Linked DNA regions of Homo sapiens. The protein of the gene in region 4 interacts with the protein of the main gene of each other region in a biochemical or structural test. Each region holds a gene or a part of one and is shown on either strand. Other genes may lie near its edges. The genes, in order: KMT5A, CREBBP, PRMT5 and H4C1.

Region 1 (8,985 bases), on a different chromosome or scaffold from region 4:
GAGGCAATGTAAATAACAACTAGAGGAAGCAGCTACCACCTCCAAAGCTGGAGATAAAAATAAAAACAAGTTGGGGTTAGCACAGCTAGCAAAATCGGAGGAAGAGCCCCGGAGAGCTCGTTCTCACCCCTCTAAGAAAGAGGCACATAGCCAGGCGCTGTGATTCATGCCTGTAATCCCAGCACTTTCAGAGGCAGAGGTGGGCGGATCACTTGAGGTCAGGAGTTCGAGACCAGCCTGGCCAACATGGCAAAACCCTGTCTCTACTAAAAATACAAAAAATTAGCCTGATGTGGTGGTGCATGCCGGCAATTCCAGCTATGTGGGAGGCTGAGGCAGGAGAATCGTTTGAACCCAGAAGGCAGAGGTTGCAGTGAGCTGAGATTGTGCCACTGGGGTGACAGAGCGAGACTCTGTCTCAAAAAAAAAGACAGAAAGAAAAAAAGAAAGAGGCACAACCAGATTGGTGCTGGGCCTCCCAGAGCCCTGTGTAGTTGGGACTCAAAACTCTGAGGAGGGGTCTGCTGTTGGTGCCTCCGCGGGAGCACAAGGAGGCTGTCTCTGGGAGTGTACAAAGAACCTGGAGACTGAACCAAATACTACTGCCAGAGGCAGTGTTATTACTGAGGGGAACATGCTAGGAATAGTAAGCAAACAGGCAAGAACAAGTCCCCTCTCTTCCTCCTGCCTCCCAGACTGCTTCTATCTGCTCTCATTGGAAGAACCTAACATTAACTGAGAACGGGGAATTATGGTTTGCTGCTCTGTATCACAGAACAGGGTAGAAATGTGGATATTACCCAGGCTGATCTCAAACTTATGAGATCAAGCGATACACCTGCCACGGACTCCCAAAGTGCTGGGATTACAAGCATAAGCCACCAGGCCTGGCCTGCCTTTTTTCCTTATAGCATTAATCACTATTTATAATGATCTTTTGGGCTGGGAGCAGTGGCTCATGCCTGTAGTCCTAGCAATTTGGAAGGCCAAGGTGGGCAGATCACTTGAGGTCAGGAGTTTGAGACCAGCCTGGCCAACATGGCAAAACCCCACCTCTACTAAAAATACAAAAATTAGCTGGGTGTGGTGGCGGGTGCCTGTAATCCCAGCTATCTGGGAGGCTGAGGCAGGAGAATCGCTTGAACCCGGGAGGCGGAGGTTGTGGTGAGCCAAGATCCTGCCACTTCACTCCAGCTTGGGCGATAGAGCAAGACTCTGTCTCAAAAAATAAATAGGCCGGGTGCGGTGGCTCACCCCTGTAATCCCAGCACTTTGGGAGGCCGAGGTGGACTGATCATCACCTGAGGTCAGGAGTTTGAGACCAGCCTGACCAACATGGAGAAACCCTTGTCTCTACTAAAAATACAAAATTAGCTGGGTATCGTGGCGCATGCCTGTAATCCCAGCTACTCGGGAGGTTGAGGCAGGAGAATCGCTTGAACCTGGGAGGTGGAGGTTGCGGTGAGCCGAGATTGTGCCATTGCACTCCAGCCTGGGCAACAAGAGTGAAACTCTGTCTCAAAAAATAAATAAATAAAATAAATAAATTAATTAAATTAAATAATCTTTTGGATGGGCGTGTGGCTCACGCCTGTAGTCCCAACACTTCGGGAGGCCAAGGCAGGTAGATCATTTGAGGTCAGGAATTCAAGACCAGCCTGGCCAACGTGGTGAAACCCCTTCTCTACCAAAAATACAAAAATATGCCCGGGCGCGGTGGCTCACGCCTGTAAGGCAAGCGCTTTGGGAGGCTGAGGCGGGTGGATCACTTGAGGCCAGGAGTTCAAGACTAGCCTGGGGAGCATGGTGGAACCCCGTCTCTACTAAAAATACAAAAAAGAAATAGCTGGGTGTTTTGGCGCATGCCTATAATCCCAGCTACTCGGGAGGCTGAGGCAGGAGAATTGCTTGAACCTAGGAGGCAGAGGTTGCAGTGAGCCGAGATCACGCCATTGCACTCCAGCCTGGGTGACAGAGCGAGACTCCGTCTCAAAAAAAAAAAAATAGGTGGGCATGATGGCACACTCTTGTAATCCCAACTACTTGGGAGGCTGAGGCAGGAGAATTGCTTGAGCCCAGGAGGTGGAGGTTGCAGTGAGTCGAGAACGTGCCCCTGCACTCTAGCCTGGATGACAGAATGCGACCCTGTCTTAAAAAATAAATAAAATAAAAATAATCTTTTAGGCTAGGGGTGGTGGGCTCATGCCTGTAATCCTAGCACTTTGGAAGGCTGAGGCAGCTGGATCACATGATGCCAGGAGTTTGAGACCAGACTGGCCAACATGGAGAAACACTATCTCTATTAAAAATACAAAAATTGGGCTGAGCGCAGTGGGTCACGCCTGTAATCCCAGCACTTTGGGAGGCTGAGGCCGTCATATCAATTGAGGTTAGGAGTTCGAATCCAGCCTGGCCAACATGGTGAAACCCCATCTCTACTAAAAATACAAAAATTAGCCAGCCATGGTAGTGGGCGCCTATAATTCCAGCTACTCAGAATGCTGAGGCAGGAGAATTGCTTGAGCCCAGGAGGCAGATGTTGCAGTGAGCCGAGATCAAACCACTGCACTCCAGCCTAGGGAGACAGAGAGAGACTCCGTCTCAAGAAAAATAAAAATAAATAAACAAAATGATCTTTTTTTTCTTTTTTCTCTTTTTTTTTTTTTGAGATGGAGTCTCTCTTTGTCGCCTAGGCTGGAGTGCAGTGGCGTGATCTCGGCTCACTGCAAGCTCTGCCTCAGCCTCCCGAGTAGCTGGGACTCCAGGTGCCTGCCACCACGCCCGGCTAATTTTTTTTTTTTTGTATTTTTAGTAGAGATGGGGTTTCACCGTGTTAGCCAGGATGGTCTCGATCTTCTGACCTGGTGATCCGCCCACCTCAGCCTCCCAAAGTGCTGGGATTACAGGTGTGAGTCACCACACCCAGCCTTAAAATTATCTTTTAAATAATGCCTTGTTTCTTCCCTAAAAGAATGCAGGGAAGGAGCTGTGTCTACTTTCCCTTCGGATCCTTGGGGGATCCAAAACAGCGGCAGGCATAGAGCTCAATAAATGTTGAAATAATCAATTTTGGAGAAAGCAAACACCTCTCTCTCTATATATATTTTTTGTTTGTTTGTTTGTTTGTTTTGAGACAGAGTCTCGCTCTGGTGCCCAGGCTGGATTGCAGTGGGACGATCTTGGCTCACTGCAACCTCTGCCTCCCGGGTTCAAGCACTTCTCCGCCTCAGCCTCCTGAGTAGTGAGATTACAGGCACGCACCACCACGCCTGGCTAATTTTTGTATTTTTAGTAGAAACGGGGTTTTCACCATGTTGGTCAGGCTGGTCTTGAATTCCTGACCTCGTGATCCACCTGCCTCGGCCTCCCAGAGTGCTGGGATTACAGGTGAGAGCCACTGCACACTGCCACACTTCCACATATTTATGGAAGCTGTAAGGCATGTTGGAGATTACGGCACCAGCTCCTTCATTTGACAGGTAGGGAAATGGAAGGCCAGAGAGCTGAACTGATGTGCCAAGTGACACAGTGACTTTGTGACAAAAGTGTCCTTTTCTACCTTTCCCAGTGCTTTCACATATATCATTTTATTTTCCTTTCCTATTTTCCTGGTGCTTTGGAAGAGTCTTTGGGCAATGGTTGGGTCTCCAAAACCTTTTCAATTACCAAAGAGACAGGATGGATTAGTGACCTCGTCCCACACCCCTGGGAGGGGCCCCAGGGAAGAGCAGTAGTAACTGGACGCCTTCCCTGAGTCCAAAGCAGACACTCCAGGACACCTGATTCTCTGGGAACATACTGACTGAGCCCCCTCTCTCAGAGGGGAACAGCGAATACTTGCTTCCCTCGGGATAAGGTAGCCATTTAGTGTTTGAACAGTGGAGAGACTGACCCAGGCCCTGCAATTACATTGCTGGGTGACCTTGGGCAGCGCGTAAGTGACCCGCTTCCTCTATTGCCCCATCTGTAAAATGGGTGGGTGTGAAGCATTAGGATCTTTGCGGTCCTGGAAGGACCTTCCCTACTGACCCAGTTAGTTGGTAGGAGTTGTGTCTGTGGGTTTTTTTTTTTTTCTTTTTTTGAGACGGAGTCTCGTTCTGTCGCCCAGGCTGGAGTGCAGCGGCGTGATCTCGGCTCACTGCAAGCTCTGTCTCCCGGGTTCACGCCATTGTCCTGCCTCGGCCTCCCAGGTAGCTGGGACTACAGGCGCCCGCCACCACGCCCGGCTCATTTTTTTTGTATTTTTAGTAGAGACGGGGTTTCACCGTGTTAGCCAGGATGGTCTCGATCTCCTGACCTCGTAATCCACCCGCCTCGGCCTCCCAAAGTGCTGAGATTACAGGCGTGAGCCACCGCGCCCGGCCGGGTTTTGAATACTGGAATATTCAATAAACCTTTTTTTTTTTTTTTTTTTTTGAGACAGTGTTTCGCTCTTGTTGCCCAGGCTGGAGTGCAATGGCGCGATCTCGGCTCACCGTAACCTCTGCCTCCCGAGTAGCTGGGATTACATGCTATTCTCCGGCCTCAGCCTCCCGAGTAGCTGGGATTACATGCATGCGATACCACGCCCGGCTAATTTTGTATTTTTAGTAGAGACTGGGTTTCTCTATATTGGTCAGGCTGGTCTCGAACCACGGACCTCAGGTGATCCGCCCGCCTCAGCCTCCCAAAGTGCTGGGATTACAGGCATGAGCCACCGCGCCCGGCCAAAACCTTTCAAACCTGAGAATGAATGGATCAAACTGCTGGAGAGGTCGGTGTGCTGGAGTTGCTAAACTGCTGGGAGACTCAGGTTTCCCAGCTCTTAAGGGAAGATCGAGGGGTCAAAGGTCGGGTTCCGGTCAAGCCCACAGAGAACCGGAAGTCCCAGATCCGGTCGGCTCGGAGCCCAGGGCTCCAGCCGGGCTACTCACGCTCCGGAGGCGGAGCTTCAGCAGCGGGAGGGGGAGGAATCTGGGGCCTCCCAATGGCAGCTCGGGTGTCTTCCATCGCAGCCATTCAACGTCTGGCGACGGTCAAATTTAAACACCCCTCCCACCTCCTCCGCCGGGACCTGTCGGGAAAGCGTTTGCAGTTATTGCGGCGGCTGGACACGCCCCGCCGCCGAAGAGGCGGGAGAAGGGCGGGGCCTTTCTCCGAGTTGGCCTATCACTACGGGCAGCCTGCGGAGAGGCGGGAGGCGGCGCCAATCGGGGCGAGCAGCTGGAGCCCGGCGGAGCAGTTGGCTGAGTTGTTGCAACTTTTTTCGAAAGCTGGGTTTCCCGGGAGATCCCAGGCGGTGACAGAGTGGAGCCATGGCTAGAGGTATTTGCCCAAGTGGCCGGCACCGGAGCGGCTGGGTCGGGGGTCGTGCTGGAGGGGTTGCCGGGGTGGAGGCAGCGGCTGCGGGGAGGCGTCCTCCTCGGGTGGCTCGGGGCAAGCTTGGGGACCCGCGTGGGGGGAGAGGGGGTGCTGCTGCGGAACCCGCCGGCCCCCCCTTGCGGCTCCAGATGCCCCCAGAAACCCTTCCCACTGCCGTGCTTCTGTTTCCCTTCTATGAAGTGAACACCTGCGGGCCTGCCTCTCCACGGCAGCAGATCCATATGTCAGAGCTCTTTGGAAACTAAAGCGCAGGGCACCTCCAGGGAATAGGTGTTATTGATAGAAGTGGGGCGGGGGCAGGAGTGAGGCTTCGCCCACTTTGGGGCCCTCTCTCTTTGGGAAAGGAGGTGATCCCGAGGCGAAGGCGCAGATCGATAACCTGCATATTGGGGTGCGCGTCAGGGTGGACACCGCAGCAGGCGCCTTTCCTCCCTCCCCACGTCCTGAGTCAGCTCTGCGCCGCTGGAGCGAAGGCCGGGCCCCGCTGGCCCACTTTGGGGTAAAACGGGTTCCTGGCATCTCGCGGGCGCGGTCGTTCGCCCCGCATCTGGTCAGGACTTCGCCCCCCGGTAGATGGCTTGGGTGGGCTTGTACAGCCCTGGGAGGCGATGCCCTGTCTGAAGTCCTCTGCATACTTAGTTGGCTGTCAGGACAGTGCCTCCCAGGTATGCGGCAAAGAGATCTCCAACCGCTTGGTCATTTCCAGCCACTGCGTCTCCTTCACGCCAAAGGGCCAAAAACTTGAGCGTGAAAGTTGAGTAGAATTAGTATTAAAAAAAAAAAAAAGTTTTGGTATTATATTTTTCTCAAAATTTCAAGGCTTCAAGTGTTAGTAGGAATTTGCTTTAGTGCAGTATGCTCCCTATAGCAATAATAATGAATAAAATAATGATTCATTCAGTAAATATCTATTGGGTCCCTTTGTTTTCAGGCCCTGAAGTCAGTTGCATCATCTATTCTCCTAGCATCCCTAGAGGTTCTTTTGGGATAAGACTTACCCAGAGCCTGATGAAAAAATGAGGCATAGTAAACTTCAGGTTAAAGAGCTTCATCACTCAACTCTTGGAGAAAATTAATACTAATATTTTTCCTTTGAAAAGTGTTAAGCATCTAAAAGTATATTTAACATTATCTGACTAATTTATCTGACAAATTTTAATAAAACTATGCTTCCTGGGTTCATTTTTCTCATCACAGCAAAATCATTTAAACTACTTGTTTTAAAAGTAGTGCATTAATTAATATATGAAGAAAACTAACCATCTATCATTGAAATACTTAAAATATGACTAAATAATAATTATGGCCAGGCATGGTGGCTCACACCTGTAATCCTAGCACTTTGGGAGGCCAAGGCGGGCAGATCACCTGAGGTCGGGAGTTCGAGACCAGTCTGACCAACATGGAGAAATCCCGTCTCTACTAAAAATACAAAATTAGCCGGGCATGGCAGCGCATGCCTGTAATCCCAGCTACTTGGGAGGCTGAGGCAGGGAGAATTGCCTGAACCTGGGAGGTGGAGCTTGCAGTGAGCCGAGATTACGTCACCGCACTCCAGCATGGGCAACAGAGCAAGACTCCATCTCAAAAAAACAAACAAGAACAATAACAAAATAATAATAATTACCACTGAGGGCCAGGCACTTTATTAACTCAATTGATCTTTACAAATTGTTATTCTCATTTTTTGGAAGAGGAAGCGTGAAGTCCAAACTTGCTGTCCAGACTCTAGCTTGGCTGGGTCTTTGCTTGTGCCACCCAACCTCCCTTACTTACCCAAAGCGAAGATAATGTTTGTCAGCTCCTCCCATGGCAGCTTACAAATCACCTATGTAATTATTAGTTATTGATTCTCACTGTCTCACTTGACCCCCAAATTAGTAGTTACCTGTTTCTTAGGCTTTACTGCCCTTGCAAGCTATTAAATTGGATATTTAGATTTAGATTTTTTTTTTTTTTTTTTTTTTTGAGACAGAGTCTCTCTCTGTCACCCAGGCTGGAGTACAGTGGAGTGATTTCAGCCCGCTTCACCCTCCCTCTCCTGTGTTCAAGTGATTCTTGTGCCTCAGCTTCCCAAGTAGCTGGGATTACAGGCACCTGTCACCACACCCAGCTAATTTTTGTATTTTTAGTAGAGACGGGGTTTCGCCATGTTGGCCAGGCTAGTCTTGAACTCCTGACCTCAGGTTATCTGCCCACCTCGGCCTCCCAGAGTGCTGGGATTACAGGCAAAAGCCACCACGCCTGGCCAATATTTAGAATTGTAAATACCAAATCATTTACAGCACTTCAAATGAACAGTCTTTTTCTTCTAGAAAATTGGGCTTTGAACTTGCAATTCACTTTGAGAGCCCTGCTGGGTCACAGAAACAAACTGGTCAGATGCCAGGCAACACCTCACTCATTTTGAAGTTTTATAATCATGCAAATATTTACAACCCCAATATATTAGTCTCAGGGGTCAGTCCACCTACCTTTCACTATTTCTACTGCCATTGTTGAATGGTCTCTTGGTTGGTTGCCCTCCTCATTTTGCCATCTTCAGTTCATTATCCCTTAGCACCTGGTGGGGGGGTCTCCAAAAATACAGACTTTTCTTTTTTTTTGGGAGACAGAGTCTCACTCTGTCACCCAGGATAGAGTGCAGTGGCACAATCTTGGCTCACTGCAAACTCCACCCCCCTGGGTTCAAGTGACTCTCCTGCCTCAGCCTCCCAAGTAGCTGGGATTACAGGCATGCGCAACCACGCCAAGCTAATTTTTGTATTTTTAGTAGAGACGGGGTTTCGCCATGTTGGCCAGGCTGGTCTCAAACTCCTGATTTCAGGTGATTTGCCCTCCTCTGCCTCCCAAGGTGCTGGGATTACAGGTGTGAGCCACTGCGCCCAGCTGGTGTATTTGTTATATACGTATAAACTTGCGGAGAAAGGACTGTTTTGAAACTTACATTGAATGATCTGTATTTACATCTTCTAGGTACTGGAGCTGCAGAATTGAGAGGAATAGGTGCTAGACTTGTAATGTGTCCCCTGCAATTGGGGGCTCAAATGCAGAGAAAGCTATGACCATGAGTGGGGCGTGGGGTGTGGCTCGGTATACTAGAATGTGAAATGGATAAGATGATCTATGTGGGTGCTTCCTGCTCCAAAACCATGATTCTCATGGCAGTTAAGCTGCAAAACTTCTCTGCCTTGCAGAAATAGAAGACGCTTTCAAATGGCTCAACCTGGTTATCAGAGTGTCACTTTCGAATCCTCTTTCACCCTCTGGGTAATCTTTTGGATATTCAACTGTAGTAGGCTCTGCAGAGGGCATAGGCAGAGTACCTAGCCCACTGGAGTTAGTGGTTGGGCTGGAGACCCTGCCTTGAAGGATGCTAAAGCATGAGCTGATTTGGGAGGGATTGTCTGAGCAGTGACCTGTCACCACCTAATCCTACTCAGTCTTATCCGTTCCAATGGGAGTCGAGGGAGGCTAGGTGGGAGGATGGCTACAAACAGCCATTTGCTTATCTGTGGATGTTGGAAGGTGCTCTGGTGGATTATGGAATTCAAGGTTCTTGGTTTTTACCCATGAGGACACTGAGGCCCAGACTGGGGAAGTGACTTGGCGATGGTCACAAAA
Region 2 (7,552 bases), on a different chromosome or scaffold from region 4:
AGTAATCAAAAGGACCGGGCATGTTTGCTGACGCCTGTAATCCCAGCACTTTGGGAGGCCAAGGCGGGTGGATCACTTGAGGTCGGGAGTTCAAGACCAGCCTGGCCAACATGGCGAAATCCTGCCTCTACTAAAAATACAAAAATTAGCTGGGCATGGTGGCACATGCCTCTAGTCCCAGCTACTCGGGAGGCTGAGATAGGAGAATCGCCTGAACCCGGAAGGCAGAGGTTGCAGTGAGCCGAGATCACGTCACTGCACTCCAGCCAGGGTGACAGAGGGAGACTCTGTCTCAAAAAGAAAAAAGGAAGACAGTTACACGTCTTCAACCTGAGATTTTTTTTTTTTTTTTTTCAGTCAGAGTCTTGCTCTGTTCCCCAGGCTGGAGTGCAGTGGCGTGATCTCGGCTCACTGCAACCTCTGCCTCCTGGGTTCAAGCAATTCTCCCGCTTCATCCTCCCGAGTAGCTGGGACTATAGGCGCATGCTGCCACGCCTGGCTAATTTTTTGTATTTTAGTAGACGGGGTTTCACCACGTTGCCCAGGCTGGTTGTCAACTCCTGAGCTCAGGCAATCTGCCCACCTCAGCCTCCCAAAGTGCTGGGATTACAGGCGTGAGCCACCATGCCCAGCCCAACCTGAGATCTTAGAAGCAGAAGCCTCTCCATGCCACATTATCCAGGGACAGCTCATTCTATGTTTCTAACATGCTAGAATTTCAAAGATAGCATCAAACACATGCTCTGTAGAGAAAAACTCCACTGAACATCTGCAATTTTTTTTTTCTTTCTGAGATGAAGTCTCACTCTGTTGCCCAGGCTGGAGTGCAGTGGCGCGCTCTTGGCTCACTGTAACCTCCGCCTCCTGGGTTTAACCGATTTTCCTGCCTCAGCCTCCTTAGTAGCTAGGACTACAGGTGCACACCACCATGCCCGGCTGAATATTTTTTTTTTTTTTTTTTTTTTGAGACAGAGTCTTGCTCTGTCGCCCAGGCCAGAGTGCAGTGGTGCAATCTTGGCTCACTGCAACCTCCACCTCCCGGGTTTAAGTGATTCTCCTGCCTCAGTCTCCTGAGTAGCTGGGATTACAGGCGTGCGCCACCATGCCCAGCTAATTTTTGTATGTTTAGTAGAGACGGGGTTTCACCACGCTGGTCAGACTGGTCTCGAACTGCTGACGTCGTGATCTGCCTGCCTTGGCCTCCCAAAGTGTTGGGATTACAGGCGTGAGCCACTACACCTCGGCCAATTTTTTGTATTTTTTGTAGTAGAGATGGGGTTTCACCATATTGGCCAGGCTCGTCTCAAACTCCTGACCATGTGATCTGCCCGCCTCAGACTCCCAAAGTGCTGGGATTACAGGCATGAGCCACCAAGCCCGGCCAGCACCACCTACAATCGTTTTTTTGAGACAAAATCTCACTGTTGCCCAGGCTGTAGTGCAGTGGCACGATCCCGGCTCACTGCAACCTCCGCCTCCTGGGTTCAAGCGATTCTCTGCCTCAGCCTCCTGAGTAGCTGGGATTCTAGGCGCCTGCCACCACACCCGGCTAATTTTTTTGTATTTTAATAGAGATGGGGTTTCACCTTCTTGGCCAGGCTGGTCTCGAACTCCCGACTTCATGATCCACCCGCCTTGGCCTCCCAAAGTGCTGGGATTACAGGCGTGAGCCACCGCACCGGGCCCGCATCTGCAATCCTATAATGACGAGCCGTTGAGCTAACTGTAAGTCATTAGCCAATCTGAACCATCTTTGAATCCAAGTAGTTTTACCATCTTTTATTATAAACACCATCACATTTCAAGTTTCCTCTTTTTGATCACAAATATAGGACTTTTTCTTCTCCTCTTAAGTATACAGCATGAGACACAGCGTTGGGGCTTTCCAGGTTTCTTACAGAAATTTCCTTACGACAAACTTAGGGTTAGCATCCACAGACCATGCTCTCGGTCACATCCTTCGACATCTGGATTGCCCAAGACGGTTGCACAGGATGCAGACTCCAAAGAGGATGAGGTTGGTACATAACGTTTTGAATTCCAGGATAACCTGAAACAGAGGCCCCTCCACTGCCCACATTAAAAGGCTGCACAACCAGGAGGGCGCCACTTTCTGAGTGTGGGCTTAGAGCTGCTGCTCTCGGGCTCTAGCCCCACTTCTTGTTTGAACACATGGCTCAAGGTTTCCCTACGGGTGGAAAAGATGAAGAGGACACTGGAGGTTAAGAACCCAGCAGGCCGAGCAGTGGCAGCAATCTCCACCGGAGGCCCGGCCTGTGCTTCCCCTCCTGGGATGGGGTGAATGGGGGCTGGTCAGGGGTGCCAGATGGTGGTCTTATTTTTACTTGAATTATTCTGCATTTTATAACTCAAGGTTCAAAGCTCTGTGCTAAAACTAGATCGGACCTTTCCAACTTCTTAGAAAGGTTCCTCGAATTCAGATTCCCAAACCAAGTATTCAGCTATTTAAAACCTATCTGTGAATGTAAGGGCCCAAACGGAAGCTATTTGGGGCGTGATTTCTAAAATTACCATCACCCCCACCTAGACCAGCCTTTGTTGGGGGACTAGGGATAAAGTGGGTTCTCTGGGTGCTGGGGGTGGTAGACTTAGGGGATGAACTTCAGCTCCCCTGCCCATGGTCCTCCTCTCAGTTTTACGGTTTTTGTGAACTTGTCTCACCCACTCAGTAAGGGAGCCTGGAACTGGACTCCAAGGGAGGCAGGACCATGTGGCTAAGTGCAAGTATCCCCCGAAGTGGGGGACCTTTCTCACTGTAACAGGGACCGGAGCTGGTGCTCCAAGGTGTCTGTCCCTCAGCATTTCCTCAAACGCCACACGGGACATGCTGCGCGGCAGCGGCAGGATTTGGGGGGAAGTCAGAAAGCACCTCGCGAGCCTGGAGCACTCTCTGCCTCAGATTCTGGGAGTCGTGTACGGGGGGGGGGAGCCGCCTGAACACGGGAAGAAGCGCCGCCTCTGGGGGTGGCAGCTACGACGGACAGGGAGGATGGAGGAGTGGGCCAAATGCAGTTTCAGACCAACTGACGACCCTAACTGTGTGAGCGACAATCACCTGTGAGCCTCGAATGTGTGGGGCCAACGCTGAGCCGCCCACCTCAGTCGCCCACCTCAGTCTCCGGGAAGAAAAGCCTCCGGGCGGCCGCTAAGCCTGGGCCACAGTTCCCAGCCACCACCCACGCCGCCACAACCACAACCGCAGCCCCAGCCTCTCCGCTATGAGCGAACAACCAGAACCATGTCTTACAAAGAACAGACTCAAAAAATATATATAAATAAATAAAAACCTTAAACATTCTTACAGGGATCTTAAAGAACAGAATACATGTTAAAAACCTCAGTAATTTATATCAATTTTAAGCGGTACTTTATATACAATGGGGAAAAAACACATGCATAGTCCAAATACAATGTTGAAAACAGCATTTTCATAACAAAAAACCCCGAACACTAAGTGTTAATACCATGTACATGAATTCAAGAAGGACCACCCTTTTTGTCTGTTGCACACAGTTTATTTAACAATATGATATAAGAAATGAGTTGGTATTTTACCATTCTATACAGTGATTGAATCTTCTCGAGTTTCGTATTTATAGGAATTAGAGCGCTTGCATGATTTACACTAGAATTGCTTTTCCTCATTTCAAGTTTCACATAGAAGAAAGAAAAGAAGGCTTCTTCTCTAGTAACATTAGCATGGTCTAAGAGTGATCATCCCTATTTTTTGTCTAAAACCAGTTTTATCAGAGAAACAAAGCAACAATTTCTACATCTGCAAGACAAGTTTGGCTTCAGCCATTATGTATAGATAGATGTGTGTGGGTGTGTACGTGTGTGCACGCCGGAGTCAATTCCTATCATCCAGGGTAATACTGGGAGACGCCCACAGAGTTCACTATAGAAAAAAATCTTCCCGAAACATCACAAAGTTATCGGGATACATTATAAGCTTGCATTATTTCAGGAATCAGTTCTGAATATTATTTTTCTTCTTACTTTTAAACATAAATGTTTAAAGTCTTGAAAATACAAATAAAAAATATGAATATAATGAACTTGTTTTTCCCGTTAAAAAAAGGCATGAGTCACCAGCAATGACGACAAAAAGAATCCAAACAAAACCCCCCTCCCCCCAAACAAAAACAAAACGGAAAAAAAAGAACCCCCCCCACCCCCCCGCCAAAAAAAAACCAAAGAGAGAGACCAGATATTTAAATCAACTGGTTTTTAACAAAAAAATATATTCTTTGTATTGTTTCTTTAAACATCAATCCACCCTTCCATGGCTCGGAAGTCGCAGTTCCATCTAGGAATAAAAAGAACCTAGATGCCTGGATTTTCAGTACAAAAGGTCCAAGAACATGAAAGGGAAAAGGTGATGCTCTCACAATGCTACAAGCCCTCCACAAACTTCTCTAGCGTGTCCCCCGTGGTGTCCCCGACCAGGGACAGTTCGCTGGACAGCGCACTCCTGCTGGGGGTGTTCAGCTGGGGGAGCATTGCACTCTGTTCGGGGTTCCCCAAGTGTCCCTGATCTATGGAGCTGGCCATGGTGACTGCGAGTCCGGGGTGGGGGGAACCAGTCTGGGGTGAGACGTGGTGTGGCGAAGGCTGGGGCTGTATCCGTGGTGACGGGCTGGAATGTGGAGGCTGGGACTGGGGCCGTGGAGACTGGACAGGGGCTGGAGACCGCACCTGGTTACTAAGGGACGTGGCGATCTGCTGGCCAGGGAGATGCGAGGCCTGTGGCTGTCCTGAGAGCATGTGTTGCTGGGGGCTCATGGGGTTCGGCTGGCCTGGGGACCCAATCTGCTGCTTCATCTGCTGTTGCTGCAGAATCCGCTGCTGCAGGGCTTGCTGGATGTTGGGGGTGCTGTCTGCCCCCAGCCCCGGCTGCCCCATCTGGCCAAGCTGTCCCATCTGAGCCGCCATCTGGCCCATGGAGCTGCCCTGGAGGGGGAGATGCTGCTGCATGCGCTGCTGCTGCTGCATGGCCGGTGGGTAGCCTCCGGGTCCTTGAGGCTGCTGGAACTGGCCGTGCCCCGCCATGCCCCCAGCCATGCCGGCACTCCCTTGCTGCTGCTGCTGTTGCTGCTGTTGTTGCTGCTGCTGTTGCTGCTGCTGCTGCAGCAGCTGCCTCCGTAACATTTCTCGGTACTGTGGATTCATACTCGCCATGTTGGGGTTGTGTCCTGGGTTCATGATGTTCAAGGCCTGGCCCTGGGGGTTCAGGCCTCCCATCGCCTGCTGCTGTGGAGGCACACCGGGCCGCGGCACGCCAGCCTGCATGGCATTCAGGTTCTGCAGGCTGGGCTGCTGGTGCATGCCAGGCTGGGGTTGCATGCCGGGCTGGGACTGGAGGCCAGGCTGGGGCTGCATGCCGGGCTGATTGGCCACGTACTTGGCTGTGCGCTGTTTGATGAAAGCTGCCATTAGCTGCGGGTTTGATTTGAGAATGTTCAGCACCTGCTGTTGCTGCTGAGGGGAGCTGGGCGACTTCAGGGTCCGCAGCAGGTCTTGCAGAGCGCTGGGTGAGATGCTCCTGGGTGGCTGCACGCTGGGCATCCGGGGCCCAGCCACGGCCGCCTGGGCCTGCATGGATATCACAGGCCTGGGCAAGCCTGGCATGGGCTGCTGCTGGGGAAGGGGCGCCTGCTGCCACTGCCCGGGAGGCATGCTGGGCATGACGGGCCCGCTCACCTGGTTGGGTCGGGGCACATTCAGGCTCACGGGGGCCATCTGGCTCCCCGGGGTCCCCATGCCCGTGCGTCCTGGGGGCATGCTGTTGTTGATGTTCACCCGGTACAGGTGCTGCTGCTGCTGGGCCTCACGCTCGATCTGCCGAGCCGCTTCCACCGCTGCAGGAGGGGGCTGGGCCGGGGGTGGGGGGGCCGGCACCTGGCTGGTAGGCTTCCCTGTGGACACCGTGGTGGGGGGCTGAGTCCGGGCCACGCTGGGGAAGCCAGCTGGTGACATGCTCACGGGTGAGGGTTGGGGCTGGGCAGGGGGCTGCGGCGTCTGGGGTGTGCTGGGCTGCTGTGTGGGGGTCCCGGGCGGTGCTGAGGTAGGAGAAGGCAGACTCTGCTGAGGCACGTTGCGGGTGTTCATGGTGGCCATCCGCCGGCGCATGAGCTGGGCCTGCTGCAGGCGGTGCTGGATCTGCTGCTGGCGGAGCTTGTGTTTGATGTTGAGGCAGAAGGGCACGGGGCATTTGTTTTCTTGGCAGTGCTTGGCGTGGTAGCAGCAGAGGGCGATGAGCTGCTTGCACACCGGGCAGCCCCCGTTGGTCTTGCGTTTGCAGCCCTTGGTGTGCTGCACCACCCGCTTCATCTTCTGGCAGGATGGCAGCGAGCAGTTGGCGTTGCGGCACTGGCACGCGTGCACCAGCGACTGGATGCAGCGCTGGATGCTCAGCCGGCGTGACTCCTGGGGGCTCTTTGACTGTGGCTCGCCCTGGCTGCTGCCCTCGTCATCCAGGCCCAGCCCCCACTTCACCATCTTATGGGCATGGCTCTTCGTGTTATAGCAGTTGATGCAGAGGTCGTAGTCCTGCAAGCAAGGAAAGGGGACAGGCCGGTGTCAGCATGGGACCCAGTACCACCAGGCATCCTGGCTGCTTCCCTCCACCGCTAAGTCTGGGTCTGTGCCAGGAGACCCAGGCAGGATAGGAGACCCAGACAGGATGCGAGCACGGACAGGTGGGAGACCCGGACAGGGCGGGAGCACGGACAAGATGGGATCATGGACGGGATGGGATCATGGACAACATGGGATCATGGACAGGACGGGGGCATGGACTGCCTATGTGTTGCTCCCAAGGACCTTCACTCCTGGCAACAGCCCTGAAGGCTCAAAGATAACCTGACCCATGCCCCAAGAACCCCTGGCCTGTAAGCTCACGGACAGTAGACACCAGCCCCCTTCCTTCCGACTTCCTCTGACCTGGGAGTCACATCAGCCCTTGCCACAGCCTGTCCAACTCCTGTACTCAAACTATGAAGCCAGACAGTGAAAGGCTGAGGGAGGCCGGTCCCTCCCAAAGCGCCGACAGCTGCCGTGAAGTGCCTCTGGGAAGGCCTGAGCTATCCGCAGTGCACCAGTGGGACTTCCCCAACGCGCAAGCCCAAGTTACTGAAAACTGCTCGCACCTGGCAACCTGATGGAGCCCTAGGACCAGGTACCATGACTGTGTTCACAAAAAGATATGAAAACTGCCGCATTCAGAAACTAGAAAGAGGACAAAGGAGACTGGAGAAAGGTGGAAAGCGGAAGAAGTGTGTGAAGGTGGGGAGGGAAGAAAGGCCCTCGCTCTGCTGAGGACCCGCTCTGCCCCGCTACAGACACCACAGCAAGTGAGGAGGCTCCGGGTTGGCAGGTGATGGTGACTGTCCTGGGAGGGGGATGGTGGGATCTGTCACCTGCCTGCCCTGCACAGCCTGACTCGGCCCATGCAAGGGACACCCACGTCATTTCACAGGGGGGTCAAAATTCCTAGAGGGGAGTGAGGGAGCATGACCGGGGGGTCCTT
Region 3 (8,517 bases), on a different chromosome or scaffold from region 4:
AAATTAGCCGGGCAGTAGTGGTGCATTCCTATAATCCCAGCTACTCAGGAGGCTAAAGCAGAAGAATCGCTTAAGCCTGGGAGGCAGAGGTTCTGGTGAGCTGAGATGGTATGGCTGCACTCCAGTCTGGGTAACAGAGTGAGACCCTGTCTCAAAAAAAAAAAGAAAAAAGAAAAAGCCCTCTTATGCCATGAAAGTATCAACACCCAAACAGCCTCATGGATCCTTGCTGTAACTTCCTAAATGAAACCTTCTGCAAAGTTCTCATGAGGTTTGGTTTGTTTTGAAAGGTTTCTAGGGCTACTACTGGCATTTACCTTTTTGTTCTCAAGATTCCCAACTTCACTGAAATTGCTCCCCAGAAACCAAAGAAAAAGAGTCAGCCTCACAGGAAAAAACGATCATACACAGGTAAATAAGGCAAGATGTATAGCTGGACTACCTTTAGAACCCTCCTACCACTCACCTTGAGGAGCCGGAAGATGAGCCTCTGGTGCATCTTAGAAAGAACAGGAAATCCCTTCTTATTGGTCAGGAAAATGCTAGTGGGGAGAATGGCTGCTTTGATGGGCTCCCCAAGCCAGCGATCAATGACATGATTAGATGGGAGGTCAGCCCCAATTTCAAGAGCTACATGAGGCAAAAGAAAAACTGTCAACCACTGCCAGGCAAGAAACCCTTCCTTGCTCCTTTGCGCAAAATCTGTTTACTTCTTTAAGAGAAAGCCAGTCTGAGACAGAGGGGAAGTAGCAAAATTGTATACTATATATGAAATTCCTGATTCTTATTCACAGGAGGTAAGAGAAGCCACACCCATCCCAGGATTCTCATGGACTCACCCACTGCAATCCTCTTACTATAGTCACACAAAGTCCGGAAGTTGTGCCACCTGTTCAGTCAAATACAGAAAAGTACAGTAAACTAGATATGGCCGACCAATCACCACAGCTCAAGGAGACCTCCCTACAGGTTGCACCCTGTACTTCCCCTCACCCTATCCCTTGCACCCTGGTACAGCAGCAAAGGGAGACATACCACATCCACGTTTTCTCCTCCCCACTGTACTCCTCTGTGTGTGTAGTTGGTGCATTCTCAATTATATCATCTCTCAGGTCCTCTGGTGCCACCAAGGGTACCCGCATCCAGAACTGCACATGAACAGTCACCCTTTTAGAACTCTCTTTTGAACTCATTGGGTCCAGAAAGTTTCCCTCAATAAAAAAAACTTCATCCAGACCTCGTTAATCCCTTTATATGCTTTTCCCAATTTGTAATTTTGTAAGTGAACATGTACCTTATATATAGATCCTTATGTAAATATCTGCCTTGTCTTACGTAAGTTTCCAAAATAATTACATTTACATGTTTTGAAACTCTCTTCATACCACTTTTAGATGGAGAGGTGCGCAATACTGACCTTTTTTTTTTTTTTTTTTTGAGACAAGGTCTGGCTCTGTCACCCAGGCTGGAGTGCAGTGGTGCAATCTCAGCTAACTGCAACCTCCGCCTCACAGGTTCAAGTCATCCTCCCACCTCAGCTTCCCAAGTAGCTGGGACTACAGGCGTGTGACACCCCACCTAGCTAATTTGTGTTTTTTTGTTTTTGTTTTGGTTTTGGTTTTTTATACAGACAGGATTTCACCACGCTGCCCAAGCTGGTCTCGAACTCCTGAGCTCAGTGATCTGCCCACCTCAGCCTCCCAAAGTGCTGGGATTACAGGCATCACCCACTGTGCCCGCCAATACTGATACTTCAATTCTGCCAAACACACCCTTCACTGAATGGCTAGGCACAAGAAGGTACTTAGCACAATCTGACTACTATGATATGCAGCAGGAAAGGAGCCCCTCAGCTATACCATGGAAGAGTGATGGCCAGTGTGGATGTGGTTGGTCAAAACTCTGGCCAGGTTGGTGTTATCTTCCTGATTAAGGGGCAGCAGGAAAGCTGGAAGACCCAAATATGCACCAAAATTCAGCTCCTGTAACATGGCCTGGAACGGAGATGAAGAGGAAAAGTTTGAGCTAACAAGCAAACAGCTTTTTTTTTTTTTTTTTTGAGACAAAGTCTCACTCTGTCACCCAGGCTGGAGTGCAGTGGCACAGTCTCCACTCACTGCAGCCTTGACCTTCCCAAGCTCAACTGATCCTCCCTCCTCAGCCTCCTGAGTAGCTGGGACCACAGGCATGCACCACCATGCCTGGCTAATTTTTGTATATTTTATAGAGATGGGGTTTCACTACGCTGCCCAGGCTGGTCTCGAAATCCCGAGCTCCAGTGATCCTACAGCCTCAGCCTCCCAAAGTGCTAGGATTATAGGTGTGCACCACAGCACCCAGCCTAATAGCTTTAATTTCATTCTATCAGTTAATTTACCAAGTTATTGGGGATGGGAGGGGACCACTCTCCCCACCCAGCTTGGTTAGAAAAATCCAGCAGAGAAGTCAAACAGTCTTACCGCCTCGGAGTTCCTGCGAATCTTCTCCACTTTTGAGTCTGGACGAATCCATGGAGAAAGCTTTCCCACAATTAGCGTATTCCAGTCTGCACTCCCCCACCCAAGAAAGACAAATACTGAATAAGGTTCAGCACTTTACTTGTTCAATTTTTAGTTTTGGGAATCAAGAGTAGAAATGAGAGACAAAGGTTTTTTCTACATAGACATGGGATAGCCTGATGCAGAATAGAGAAGCAAGGAGAAAACAAGTTATCTATATCCCAGGGACTAACAAATATATCCAAGTCAGAAAAGGAGGAGAATGAGGGCCCCGATAAAGCAGAAGTTGTTATTGCCTCTAATAATTAAGGGGCATATGGGATGGTCCCTACCCCTTCCTGACAGCAGTAGGTCTGATCGTGTCTGGGGACCGGGCCGATTCTTAGCAGGTTCCTGAATGAACTCCCTCTTGAAACGCGGATGGAAGACAGGCATGCAGAGGAAATCAAACCTACAACCGCGACAGACCCAGAATCATGTAAAGACAGCAGCAGTGCCAGAGAGCCAAGCAACTGGATTTAGGCTATCTTGATTTTGCACAGCCCTTTCAGCTGCCATCAGTTCAGCCTACTAGGCTGCTGAGTTCAGACCACCTTGGGGGATATCAACTCTGCTGTACTGTGCCTCAATTTCTCCCTAAAACACAGCCATGGGACATATGAGTAAGGAGAAAATGATGGATATCCACAAGTAGAATTTTTTTCTCCTCAGGTGTCAGTATGTTTCCAAGACCATCACATCCAGATTTGCCCCAGTTCTGCCCATGCCTCCCCCGTCAAAATTAGCCTCTTCTCTCCCTTGCCCCCTAACACCTCCTCCCACTCCCAGACAATAATCGCGACCTCCAGGGCCCTTTAGAGTTTACCCAACAACTCTCCCAACTTTGGGACTCAGTGACCACAGGCCTCCCACAAGTTATTTTCCTCACGTTACTGGGTCCGAGGCTCCTCCCCTCCAAAGAGTAATAGTCTCTCCCCTCCTCATCCTAGCCGACCCCCTCACCCCTGCTTCTCCGGGATGACTAGTCTGCCCTTCTCCGTCCCCGAGTTCGGACCCCGCATTCCGCTCGTGGAGGTCCGGCCCTCACCCCTGCTTGGCCACAGCCCCTAGTGTGTCAGCTATTTCGGGGACGCAATTCAGGTCCCTCCCGCTGGACACGCGGCTCCCACCAGCACCCCCGACCGCCATCGCCGCCATCTTTCTCCTCGCGCTGTCCACGCCGGGATTCCTTGATACTAGTAGCCAATCACAAAGTCAAACTAGTGCCCCAGAAGGCGGGACGAGTCGCCTTAACAACCAGAGCGTCTGCCACAGCTCCCGAACAGGAGGGATGGGGAGTGGCTTTTCCTGCCAATCCGCGGGCTGCACAGTGGCGTACGGCATGGATCCACCAATCTCAGGGTCTGGTTCCTGACGAACTTCAATCTCCCAGAATGCTTAGTCTATCTGAAGAACGCCGTTGAGAGACTACACCGCCCATGAAACCCTGCAGTATAACCTTGAAGTACCATCACGGAGAGAAACAGTGCCATCTCAGGGCCAGTGGCGCAATGGATAACGCGTCTGACTACGGATCAGAAGATTCCAGGTTCGACTCCTGGCTGGCTCGGTGGGGTTCCTCGCAGCTTCGCTGCGTGAGCATTTTGTAATTTTCCTTTCCTTTCGCAGCTTGATGCTTCTTTATTATCTTCACGCTTTCATTATCAGATCCTGAGTCGGTTGGGTTATGCAGCCATGTAATGTCAGCTTTTCCCGTAACTACCCTCAAAAGTGTTTTTCTTGTGTCATTATTTACGTCCATATGAACACTGAGAAAACTGGGTTAATGGCTGGTGCTATTAAAATGAGCTTTGTCACCTTACTATGTTACATATTAAAATAAACTGCTAACTCAGCTACTACTTCCTAGTGATTCTAGGAAGTAGTGTTTTGTGTTTCAAACACAAAAGGTGTAAATAAACGCCTAAACACACACACACACCTCAAGATAGAGAAAAGGAATTCATTAATTACAGTGGGCAGCAGTCATGAAATTGGCTGGCATGGAGGCCAGAGAGAATCTACATTTTCTCATGTCATTAGCTGCTAGAGATGGAAAGGAAGGAAGCAAGGAAAGACATAGGGAGGTAAATGGGAACTCCAGAAGGCAGGGGGCCCACTGGTGTTGAGGGCTCGGCAGCAAGGATGGAGAGGAGAACACGGTACAAGAGACCCCACGCAGGCGCCGCTGGCAGAACTTAGGGACCGACTGGCAAGGAGTCCTGAGAAAGCAAAGTAGGGGGTGATGCCTAGGATTCTGTCCATGCAGTGAGCAAGAAATGCGGAAAGAGGGTTTGGGAAATCAGGGTTTGGGTTTGGTCATGCTGAATTGAACGTCTAGGGGGCGCTGTGTAATAGAAAGTTGGATGGAGGTCGCTAGAAGAAAAGAACTGAGGCCATGCGACTGAGATCACCATAGCTCGTTGGGGACAGAGCCATAGGAAATACGAAAAGGGTGTGGGGTAGGATAAGTTCTGGGGAACCCTGGGTGCAATGCAAGTGCCCCAAAAGAATGAAAGCCGGAAAACCGGCCGGGCGCGGTGGCTCACGCCTGTAATCCCAGCACTTTGGAAAGCGGAGGCGGGTGGATCTCCTGAGGTCAGGAGTTCGAGACCAGCCTGGCCAACATGAAAACTCCCCGTCTCTCCTAAACGTGGTAGCAGGCGCCTGTAATCCCAGCTACTCGGCCAGCTACTCGGGAGGCTGAAGCAGGAGAACTGCTTGAACCCGGCAGGCGGAGGTTGCAGTGAGCCAAGATCACGCCACTGCACTCCAGCCTGGGCAACAAGAGCAAAATAATGTCGGGGCAGGGGGAGGAGGAAAGGAAAGTCGGAAAAACCAAAGCATTTAAAAAATGCACCATGAAGGCCAGGCTGGGCACAGTGGCTCACGCCCGTAATCCCAGCACTTTGGGAGGGCGAGGCGGGCGGATCACCTGAGGTCGGGAGTTCGAGACTACCCTGACCAACACGGAGAAACCCATCTCTACTAAAAATACAAAATTTAGCCAGACGTGGTGGCGTGCGCCTGTAATACCAGCTACTCAGGAGGCTGAGGCAGGAGAATCACTTGAACCTAGGAGGTGGGAGGTGGAGGCTGCAGTGAGCCTAGATCATGCCGTTGTACTCCAGCCTGGGCAACAGCAAGACTCCGTCTCAAAAAAAAAAACAAAAAAAAACCCCAGCACTTTGGGAGGCCGAAGCAGGCGGATCACGAGGTCAGGTGATCAAGACCATCTTGGCTAACACAGTGAAACCCCGTCTCTACTAAAAAAAATACAAAAAAAATTAGCCGGGTGTGGTGGCAGGCGCCTGTAGTCCCAGCTACTCAGGAGGCTGAGGCAGGAGAATGACCCAGGAGGCAGAGCTTGCAGTGAGCCGAGATCGTGCCACTGCACTCCAGCCTGGGCGAGAGAGCGAGACTCCATCTCAAAAAAAAAAAAAAAAAAAGCTCCATGAAGCCTGAAGTGATTGGAGGTGCTTTTGTCCACTATTATCGTTACTATTTTTCTGCTCCAGGATCCCATGCAGCATATCATATGACATTTAGTTGCTATGTCTCCTTAGGCTCCTCTTGGCTATGACAGTTTCTCAGATGTTCCTTGTTTTTGATGACTTTGGTAGTTTTGAGGAGTACTGGTTAGGTATATTGTAGGATGCCCCTCTATTGGAATTTGTCTGTTTGTCTCATGATTAGACTGTGTTTTGGGAAGGAAGGTCACAGAGTTAAAGTGCTGTTTTTGCCGGGGGCAGTGGCTCAGGCCTGTAATCCCAGCACTTTAGGAGGCCGAGGCAGGCAGATCACCTGAGGTCAGGAATTCGAGACCAGCCTGGCCAACATGGTGAAACCCCGTCTCTACTAAAAATACAAAAATTAGCCAGGAATGGTGGCATGCGCCTGTAATACCAGCTACTCGGAGGCTGAGGCAGGAGAACTGCTTGAAACTGGGAAGCAGAGGCTGCAGTGAGCCGAGATCACACCACTGCACTCCAAGCCTGGGTGACAGAGCGAGACTCCATCTCAAAAAAATAAAAGTGCTATTTTAATCACATCATATCAAGGGTACATACTATGAACATGATTTATGACTTAATGTTGACCTTGATCACCTGAAAAGAAGTAGTTTATCCAGTTTTTCCACTGTTAAGTGATTCTCTCCCACCCTCTCCCCGGCCCCAACTTTCCATACTGTATTCATTGGAAGGAAGTCACTATGCTCCCCCTCCTTAGAGTTGGAGTATCTACAGAATTTATTTGGAATTCTTCCCTCCAGGTCTTTCCAATAAATGGTTGTTCTCAGCAAGTGGGTGAGTACTCCACCAGCATTTTATTTATTTATATTTTATTTCATTTTTCATTTTATTTTGAGACAGAGTCTTGCTCTGTCGCCCAGGCTGGCGTGCAGTGGCATGATCTCAGCTCACTGCAACCTCCACCTCCCGGGTTCAAGCAATTCTCCTGCCTCAGCCTCCCAAGTAGCTGGGACCACAGGTGTGCACCACCATGCCTGGCTAATTTTTGTATTTTTAGTAGAGACGGGGTTTCACCATGTTGGCCAGGCTGGTTTCAAACTCCTGACCTCAGGTGATTCACCCACCTCGGCCTCCCAAAGTGCTGGGATTACAGGTGTGAGTCATGACGCCCCACTTTCACTGGCATTTTAAGAGGTAAAAGAAAGAGTTGTTGAGGAGGTCTGCTTGTTCTCTGCCCTAGTTGTGCCCAGCCAAACTCTACATTCACAGAAGACTTGTTAGATGTTTTTTCTTCTTTAGAAGCTAATTGTCTAGATTGTGGACCATCTGTGCTCCTGGCATCTCACTCCTGATGTCAAGCAGGTAGCTGCTCTGTTGGTTGTTAACTAACCCATCATGGGTGACAGGGAGAGAGGACAATCTATAAAACAATAATGTCAGTTTTGCCATCAGTTAAAGTAATTTTCTAAAGGATTCATGTAAAAAGAACCTAGAATTTCTGACTGACCCTAAAGTAAGTTTACATGGGCTGAATTTCTTTGGTCTGTGCTGTCTTTGTCTTTTCATTCCAAATGGCCTCGGCATTGTGGCTAGCATCATGCTGAACAGTTCTCAGTAACTCCATACCACGTTGCTCTCAGCCTTTTCTATAGCACTTTCCTGTGCCATAAAACACAGCATGTAACCGTGGGTCTGTCTACATGAGTTGTAGAGGAGCAAGAAGGGAAGGAATGAAGAGAAATAGAGCGCCTTGAACAGGTCCTGTCCCTAGGCGTTAAGTCAAAGTTGGTGAAGTCTACATTATGTTCTGCTTTGCTCTGCTCTGCATGCTGAGTTTTTGGGCCCAGAAGTGTGTGAATCACTGTTATACTATGGGACTTTTGCCTTGGCTGAGATGAAGATAGGGAAATGGTGGGACAGAAGGGCAAATACCCTGGGTGAGAAATAATGTTACTTTCTCCAACAGGAGCCAATGACCAATAGGCCAGAGCACTGGAGACTTTCTGGAAGAAAGAGGTACCCACTCCCAGATAATGCTCCCACTTATCCCCCTGGCTTTCCTCGCTTTCAGGCCCAATTCTTCCACCTTATCTTGTTCTTTTGTCCTTGTTTAAACACCTCTAGCCCATTGAAAACCTCTTGGCATCTTCTACTGTGCTCCCCTCCTCCCTCAGCGCTTGCCTCCCTCCCCAGGCCCACCTTCACTCATCTCTGTGCCTGCCCAGCCAGCCACACTCTTCAACACCAAAATAATGGCCTGTTTGACCCTCCTACTGCTCCAAATTTCTTTTTCACAATCAAGGCTGTACTCCAGCTATGAAAGTGGCAGAGTTACTGAGGCAAAATAATCTGTGCAGATTTGCATTCTCTTTTTTGTCATCTCTATTATACAGTGTTTATCTGTCAAAATGAATAGAAAGCAGGAACTGTTCTGAACATAGAAAAAGATGGAAAACTACCCAATTTATTTATGAAGACAGAACACATCTAATATCAAAACCTGTCAG
Region 4 (6,175 bases):
CCACCCTCCATACCAGGCTCATTTTTGCTCCTCTGATTCCTGAAACTATCCAGAATGCAGCTATGAATTCTCTCCATTGTCAGTTTTAAATTAAGCCAAGCTGGGTACTTGTGTAATTCCTCAAGAAATCCTGGATGAAAACTGTCAGGTGGAAAACAGGACCTCAAAATAAAGAGACATCCATCACTGAAGCTAACATCGTGAGGCTGAAATCAGTCCTATAACAATGGTACCAAAAAGAGCACAATGAGAGGCATTTGTGAATATTTACTCAGATGAGAGTAAGATATTTCCCTATCAGCTAACCTGAAGTTCACATCCCTTTTCCAGCTGAGTTCTGAAGCTAGATGTACTTAACTGGAACACATAACTGCATCAGGAACATCCTTTAAAACTATGGCTACCATGGCTTGACTGGACAAACCCCAGGCTTCCAGGTTTAGCACAGGTGGCCCTTCACAGACCAACATTGCCTATGCTACCAACCTCATGTCCTACCACCCTGCTTGCATCATTTCTCTCTCTGCATATATAAAAATATATGTGTATGTATATAATCAGCTTTATTGATATTTAATGTACCACAAAATTTGCCCACTTTAGGTACAGTTCAATGAATTTTACCGTGTTTTCTTAGTTGTACAACCATCATCACAATTTAATTTCGGAATATTTCTATCACCCAAATTTCCATTTCTGCGTAAAGGGGGAAAAAAAAAGGTTAACTGCTGAAGGCCGCGGTAACACTGAAAAAGGTGCCTTTTCTCTCTAAAACAGATTTTAATCTCCCCTGAATTTAGTGTCCTGGGTATTCCAGGAGTCTGAATAGGGTTTCAATTTTCAGGGTCTTTTTAATAGAGTAAAACTGTATTGGTGGCGATAAATTTAGTATTGCTCTCAGTACATGATTGAGGGATACTTAAATGTCTCTGTGATTTTATTTCATAATCGCTAAAAGATGGTTTTTTTTTTTCCTAAAACAGGGTTTTTGTTTTTTCTCAATAAGCTTCTTAGCTTCCCCTCCGGCTCCCTGGCTTGCCTCAGGAAATATTAGCTCATCAGTTCTGATTGGTTGACAGCTACGAATGGCCCTCATTGATTGGGCAGCGCTTCTTTGTCCCTTGGAAACTAATACAAATTTTTAACACTACTTTTTTTCCACTCTTTCTTCAGAGTTGGAATATCGTTGCTCCCCTACCCATATGTAGTGAGTGGAGGGCAAACTTGGAGTTCCCCTAATCTTTCCTTTTTAGGATGTCAGCTCAGTATCATTCATCTTAATTACACATTGAGCTTCTTGACTTAATGGATACAGCTCTTCTTTTGTTTAGTTGGGCGGCCCTGAAAAGGGCCTTTGGTTCAGAAATGCAAGCTGTGGAGAAATCAGCAACCTTAACCGCCAAAGCCATAAAGGGTGCGTCCCTGGCGCTTAAGCGCGTAGACCACGTCCATGGCAGTGACTGTCTTGCGCTTGGCGTGCTCCGTATAGGTGACAGCGTCACGGATCACGTTCTCCAAAAACACCTTGAGCACCCCGCGAGTCTCCTCGTAGATCAGACCAGAGATCCGCTTCACACCGCCACGCCGGGCCAGACGCCGGATGGCCGGCTTGGTGATGCCCTGGATGTTGTCACGCAACACCTTGCGGTGGCGCTTGGCACCCCCCTTACCCAAACCCTTCCCGCCCTTACCACGTCCAGACATGACTTCCCAAGAAGTGAACCAAGAGCAAGTGAGAGAATAGGAAACCGATCTTTATATATCTACGTTACCCCTGCCCCCACCTCCAGCGGACACTGAGACTGAAAAGCGCGCAGGCGGGAAATGTGACGCCTACAGTCCGCTCCTTTAACCCCTCCTCCAAGCCCCAGGAAATGGCGGGAGCAGCGATTGGGGGAGGGTGGGGAGATGAGGGTGGGACCAAGCAGGCTTGACCAATGGCCTTTATTTTCTTAACAGAGCTACAGGCTTTGAGGAACTGGGTTAAGAATTAAATGTAAACCCATTCTGACTCCAGAATTATTTTAAGTCGAACTTTTTTTTTAACCGAATCTCTCTGTCGCCCAGACTGGAGTACATTAGAGCCATCTCGATTCACTGAAACCTCTGCCTCTCAGGTTCAAGTGTTTCTCCTGCCTCAGCCTTCAGAGTGTAGCTGGGATTACAAGCGCTCGCCGTCGCGCCCGGCGTGTTTTTGTATTTTTCGTAGAGACGGGATTCGGCCATGTTGGCCAGGCTGATCCCGAACTCCTGATTTCTGGTAATCCGCCCGCCTCAGCCTCTCAAAGTGCTTGAATTACAGGCGTGAGTCACCGCGACCGGCCGAAATCGATTGGTTTTGAAGCCTTCAGTAGCATTAAAACGAAAAGTGCTCCCAATGCATTCCCTTTTGTCTTAAATTGGTTTCTTACAGCTACTTTACTTGAAAAGGTGGTGGCTCTGAAAAGAGCCTTTGCTTGGACCGTCAGAGAGACCACAGTAATCACGCCCTCTCTCCGCGGATGCGGCGGGCGAGCTGGATGTCCTTGGGCATGATAGTGACGCGCTTGGCGTGGATGGCGCACAGGTTAGTGTCCTCAAATAGCCCTACCAAGTAGGCCTCGCACGCCTCCTGCAGAGCCATCACAGCGGAGCTCTGGAAACGCAGGTCTGTTTTAAAGTCCTGCGCAATCTCGCGCACCAGGCGCTGGAAAGGTAGTTTACGAATAAGCAGTTCAGTGGACTTCTGATAACGGCGGATCTCGCGCAGAGCCACGGTGCCCGGCCGGTAGCGGTGGGGCTTTTTCACGCCGCCGGTGGCCGGAGCGCTTTTGCGGGCTGCCTTAGTGGCCAACTGTTTGCGTGGCGCCTTGCCACCAGTAGACTTCCGAGCAGTTTGCTTAGTGCGAGCCATGACGGAAAAACAGCACAGCGGAACACCCAACACTAGCGCAAATACGCCCATGAGCTGCTCTATTTATAGTGTGTAAAGTGCAGTGATTGGATGATAGAAGACGCTAAATATGACGTTACACACTCTGATTGGTCTATCTTTAAGCCAGCAACAATCGTGCAGTTTCACCGGCTACTATATTCTATTCCAACTCTACAGATGATTATTTAAGTGGTATTTTATTACTACTATTATTTTATTTTACTTTTGCTTTGTTCCCCAAGCTGGTCTTAAACTTGGGCTCAAAGGATCTTCCCGCCTCAGCATCCAGAGTAGCTGGGATTACAGGGGAGCCCCACTGCGCCGGCTTGGACTTTAATTTTTTAAACTTGTCCTCTTCTACATCTGGTTTTCATAACCTGAAGGCTGTGTTTATTTTCCATAAAACAAGGCATTGATTCCAAAGGTATTATAATTCCCCAATTCCGTATAACCTTCAGCTCTTTAGGAAAAAAAAAAAAAAAAAAAAAAAGAGGGAATACTGCTCACCTCCTCTCCGGAAATGTACCCTTTACGGGAATTTCTGAAACCTTTCACAAGAATTGGATTCCTTTGTAATGCTTTAATTGACTTAGGAGTGTTATTGAAATCTACAAAGCATCTCAAACATAGTAGGATTACACTATTACTCAGAAACATTTTCTATGAGACGTCTTTCTCTTGATTATGCTCTTTGAATCCTAAACTTGCAGCGTTCTGCAGCTTTTGTTTTCTAAAGCCTAGGTGTACTCTGCCAGTCACAAAATGGCGTTTCTCCAGCACTGCCGCCAGGTACCACCAGCTGGGAGTTGTTCCTCTTGCGGAGCAGGAGGTGGACTTGGCCCAAGAGAAACTGGATAGTGGTTCGCAAGGAACATAATTTAGCATTGCCAAGAGCTAATGCAATCATTTTGAAAATCTCAAAACACTGAAAAGTGGATTGTGACCTTTTTAAATTCACAAGAGACAGGCCACATTCTATCTTTTGATTGGTTTAGGCTATTTTCTTGAACAGCCATTTAGAAAGCAGATCTATCATCCTTCATTTGCATGGAGCGTTCCCATTTTATTTGAAACCAGTTTAACCCAATAGAAAAAAGGGAGGCAGAACCCATTATTTAAAGTGGAAACTCCTGAATCAGATAATTAGGAGTATTTCCTTTTCAAAAGTTGCGTTTTTTCAGATACCTCGCTTATTACACTAAGAAAGGTTTATATCTTTCACAAAGGGTTTACTTACAAAAATCTTCCAATTTTGTATACCTGTGTTTCATAACTGACTAGCCGTCAAACCAAGATGTAGAGTTTCCAACCGTTATTTTCCAAATTTTTAGAAATTACGTGAAATATTTGAATGCATGCCTTCTCAATAAAATGGGACGTAGGAAGCACTGGTGCAGAAGATGGGTACAATACTTATCTGGGACCACTCCATTATTTGGTTGGCACGTTGTTTGAACAAAAAGGGGAAAAGCTCAGGTTACTTAGCATGGTTCGGACTTATTTGAAAACTACCACAGCAGGAGCGGAAATAAGACCGCATTACCTCACTCTCTGCTGTGCTGTGCTAGGGGGTTATCCAGAATAGGATTGTAGAAGTGGATGTCGATTTAATAGTTTTTTATTCTCCCATTAGCTGAGTCTCTGATTGGCAATGTGAGATCGTTTTAGCTTATTGATACTTTGAAATGCACTTAACAGCCACAAACAAGTTAAAGGGTTGTTACCATAAAATCTTATCCCCAGGGTGTGCTTGCATTTATCACCCGTGTTTGCTTTCACACTAAGTGGACTTAACTCCCCAGCAGAATGCCTGTCAGGGAACCGGTTTCGTGGACCCAGCATTTAACGCCTTTCGCAGGCTTGTGAGGCCCATAAATATTTGTTGAATAAAAGAATGAGTTGACCATGTCATGGTGCGCTGATTGCGTGTGCTGACATGGAACACAGGTTGTAAACCTTAATACCAATTTGGGGCATGTTGTATGGATGAAAAGGGCATTGGAAATTCCTGAAGTGCATCCCACATTGGACTGTGGAAATAAGTTGCAAGTGCAGAAACGTTTCCACACTTGCAGTTTGAGTATTAATTGCAGCGTTTGTGAATTCTGGTGTTGTCTACGATTCATTCTTGTTTGACGTGAAAGGTATTCGCGAGACACATCGCTCTAAAACATTGCCAGAAAATGTAATAGAGTTGATGACAACTGGCCCTAACACGGCCTAAAACTCGCACTTTTCTCTCCCTCCGCAACTATTCAAAACACTGTATTTTACATTTCTTGCAAATTAAAAACTAACATCTCTGGCAACGGACCTCTAAAAATTTCTAATAAAACTCCTCGGATGCTTGTGGCACTGCATTTGTAAACCGCCCCCTCTCAACCTACTCCCTAAAAAAGAGCTGCTTTTTGAGAGAGAAGCGGTACCCTCTGATGTTACTGGGCGGCAGTCTGCCTACAATTTCCTTCACAATGAGGCAACCAGAGCGGCTTTTTCTGTGTGTTTGCTTGCGTTGAGGGGAGCAGGACCATAGGCCCTAGAGGCCCCCAGCTGCCTTCTGAGACTGGGCGAAACCCTCGGCAGCGCGCAGGGGGCGCTAGGGCGCGAGGGGCGGGCACTGACGGGCACCAATCACGGCGCAGTCCCACCCTATAAATAGGCTGCGTTGGGGCCTTTTTTTCGCATCCTGCTTCGTCAGGTTTATACCACTTTATTTGGTGTGCTGTGTTAGTCACCATGTCTGAAACAGTGCCTCCCGCCCCCGCCGCTTCTGCTGCTCCTGAGAAACCTTTAGCTGGCAAGAAGGCAAAGAAACCTGCTAAGGCTGCAGCAGCCTCCAAGAAAAAACCCGCTGGCCCTTCCGTGTCAGAGCTGATCGTGCAGGCTGCTTCCTCCTCTAAGGAGCGTGGTGGTGTGTCGTTGGCAGCTCTTAAAAAGGCGCTGGCGGCCGCAGGCTACGACGTGGAGAAGAACAACAGCCGCATTAAGCTGGGCATTAAGAGCCTGGTAAGCAAGGGAACGTTGGTGCAGACAAAGGGTACCGGAGCCTCGGGTTCCTTCAAGCTCAACAAGAAGGCGTCCTCCGTGGAAACCAAGCCCGGCGCCTCAAAGGTGGCTACAAAAACTAAGGCAACGGGTGCATCTAAAAAGCTCAAAAAGGCCACGGGGGCTAGCAAAAAGAGCGTCAAGACTCCGAAAAAGGCTAAAAAGCCTGCGGCAACAAGGAAATCCTCCAAGAATCCAAAAAAACCCAAAACTGTA

Evidence for each region.
Region 1: the proteins of H4C1 (region 4) and KMT5A are reported together in a solved structure, tested with the Homo sapiens proteins (6 studies listed by BioGRID, with this or other methods).
Region 2: of the proteins of H4C1 (region 4) and CREBBP, one has a biochemical effect on the other in vitro, tested with the Homo sapiens proteins (7 studies listed by BioGRID).
Region 3: of the proteins of H4C1 (region 4) and PRMT5, one has a biochemical effect on the other in vitro, tested with the Homo sapiens proteins (6 studies listed by BioGRID).

Annotation. Positions count from the first base shown.
Region 1 is NC_000012.12:123,378,905-123,387,889, forward strand, and holds the start of KMT5A (N-lysine methyltransferase KMT5A), read left to right. Parts: upstream 1-5,227; 5' UTR 5,228-5,294; coding exon 5,295-5,304; intron 5,305-8,985. UniProt on the Homo sapiens protein: Protein-lysine N-methyltransferase that monomethylates both histones and non-histone proteins. Specifically monomethylates 'Lys-20' of histone H4 (H4K20me1).
Region 2 is NC_000016.10:3,723,302-3,730,853, forward strand, and holds the end of CREBBP (CREB-binding protein), read right to left. Parts: intron 6,574-7,552; coding exon 4,417-6,573; 3' UTR 1,753-4,416; downstream 1-1,752. UniProt on the Homo sapiens protein: Acetylates histones, giving a specific tag for transcriptional activation. Mediates acetylation of histone H3 at 'Lys-18' and 'Lys-27' (H3K18ac and H3K27ac, respectively).
Region 3 is NC_000014.9:22,925,667-22,934,183, forward strand, and holds the start of PRMT5 (protein arginine N-methyltransferase 5), read right to left. Parts: upstream 3,711-8,517; 5' UTR 3,696-3,710; coding exon 3,586-3,695; exon of another isoform or gene 3,560-3,585; coding exon of another isoform or gene 3,501-3,559; intron 2,950-3,500; coding exon 2,831-2,949; intron 2,546-2,830; coding exon 2,460-2,545; intron 1,995-2,459; coding exon 1,860-1,994; intron 1,237-1,859; exon of another isoform or gene 1,149-1,236; coding exon 1,036-1,148; exon of another isoform or gene 890-1,035; coding exon 840-889; exon of another isoform or gene 795-839; intron 631-794; coding exon 467-630; intron 1-466. UniProt on the Homo sapiens protein: Arginine methyltransferase that can both catalyze the formation of omega-N monomethylarginine (MMA) and symmetrical dimethylarginine (sDMA), with a preference for the formation of MMA.
Region 4 is NC_000006.12:26,017,208-26,023,382, reverse strand, and holds H4C1 (histone H4), read right to left. Parts: upstream 1,735-6,175; 5' UTR 1,705-1,734; coding exon 1,393-1,704; 3' UTR 1,333-1,392; downstream 1-1,332. Other genes in the region: H3C1 (histone H3.1), read right to left, coding at 2,483-2,893; H1-1 (histone H1.1), read left to right, coding at 5,651-6,175. UniProt on the Homo sapiens protein: Core component of nucleosome. Nucleosomes wrap and compact DNA into chromatin, limiting DNA accessibility to the cellular machineries which require DNA as a template.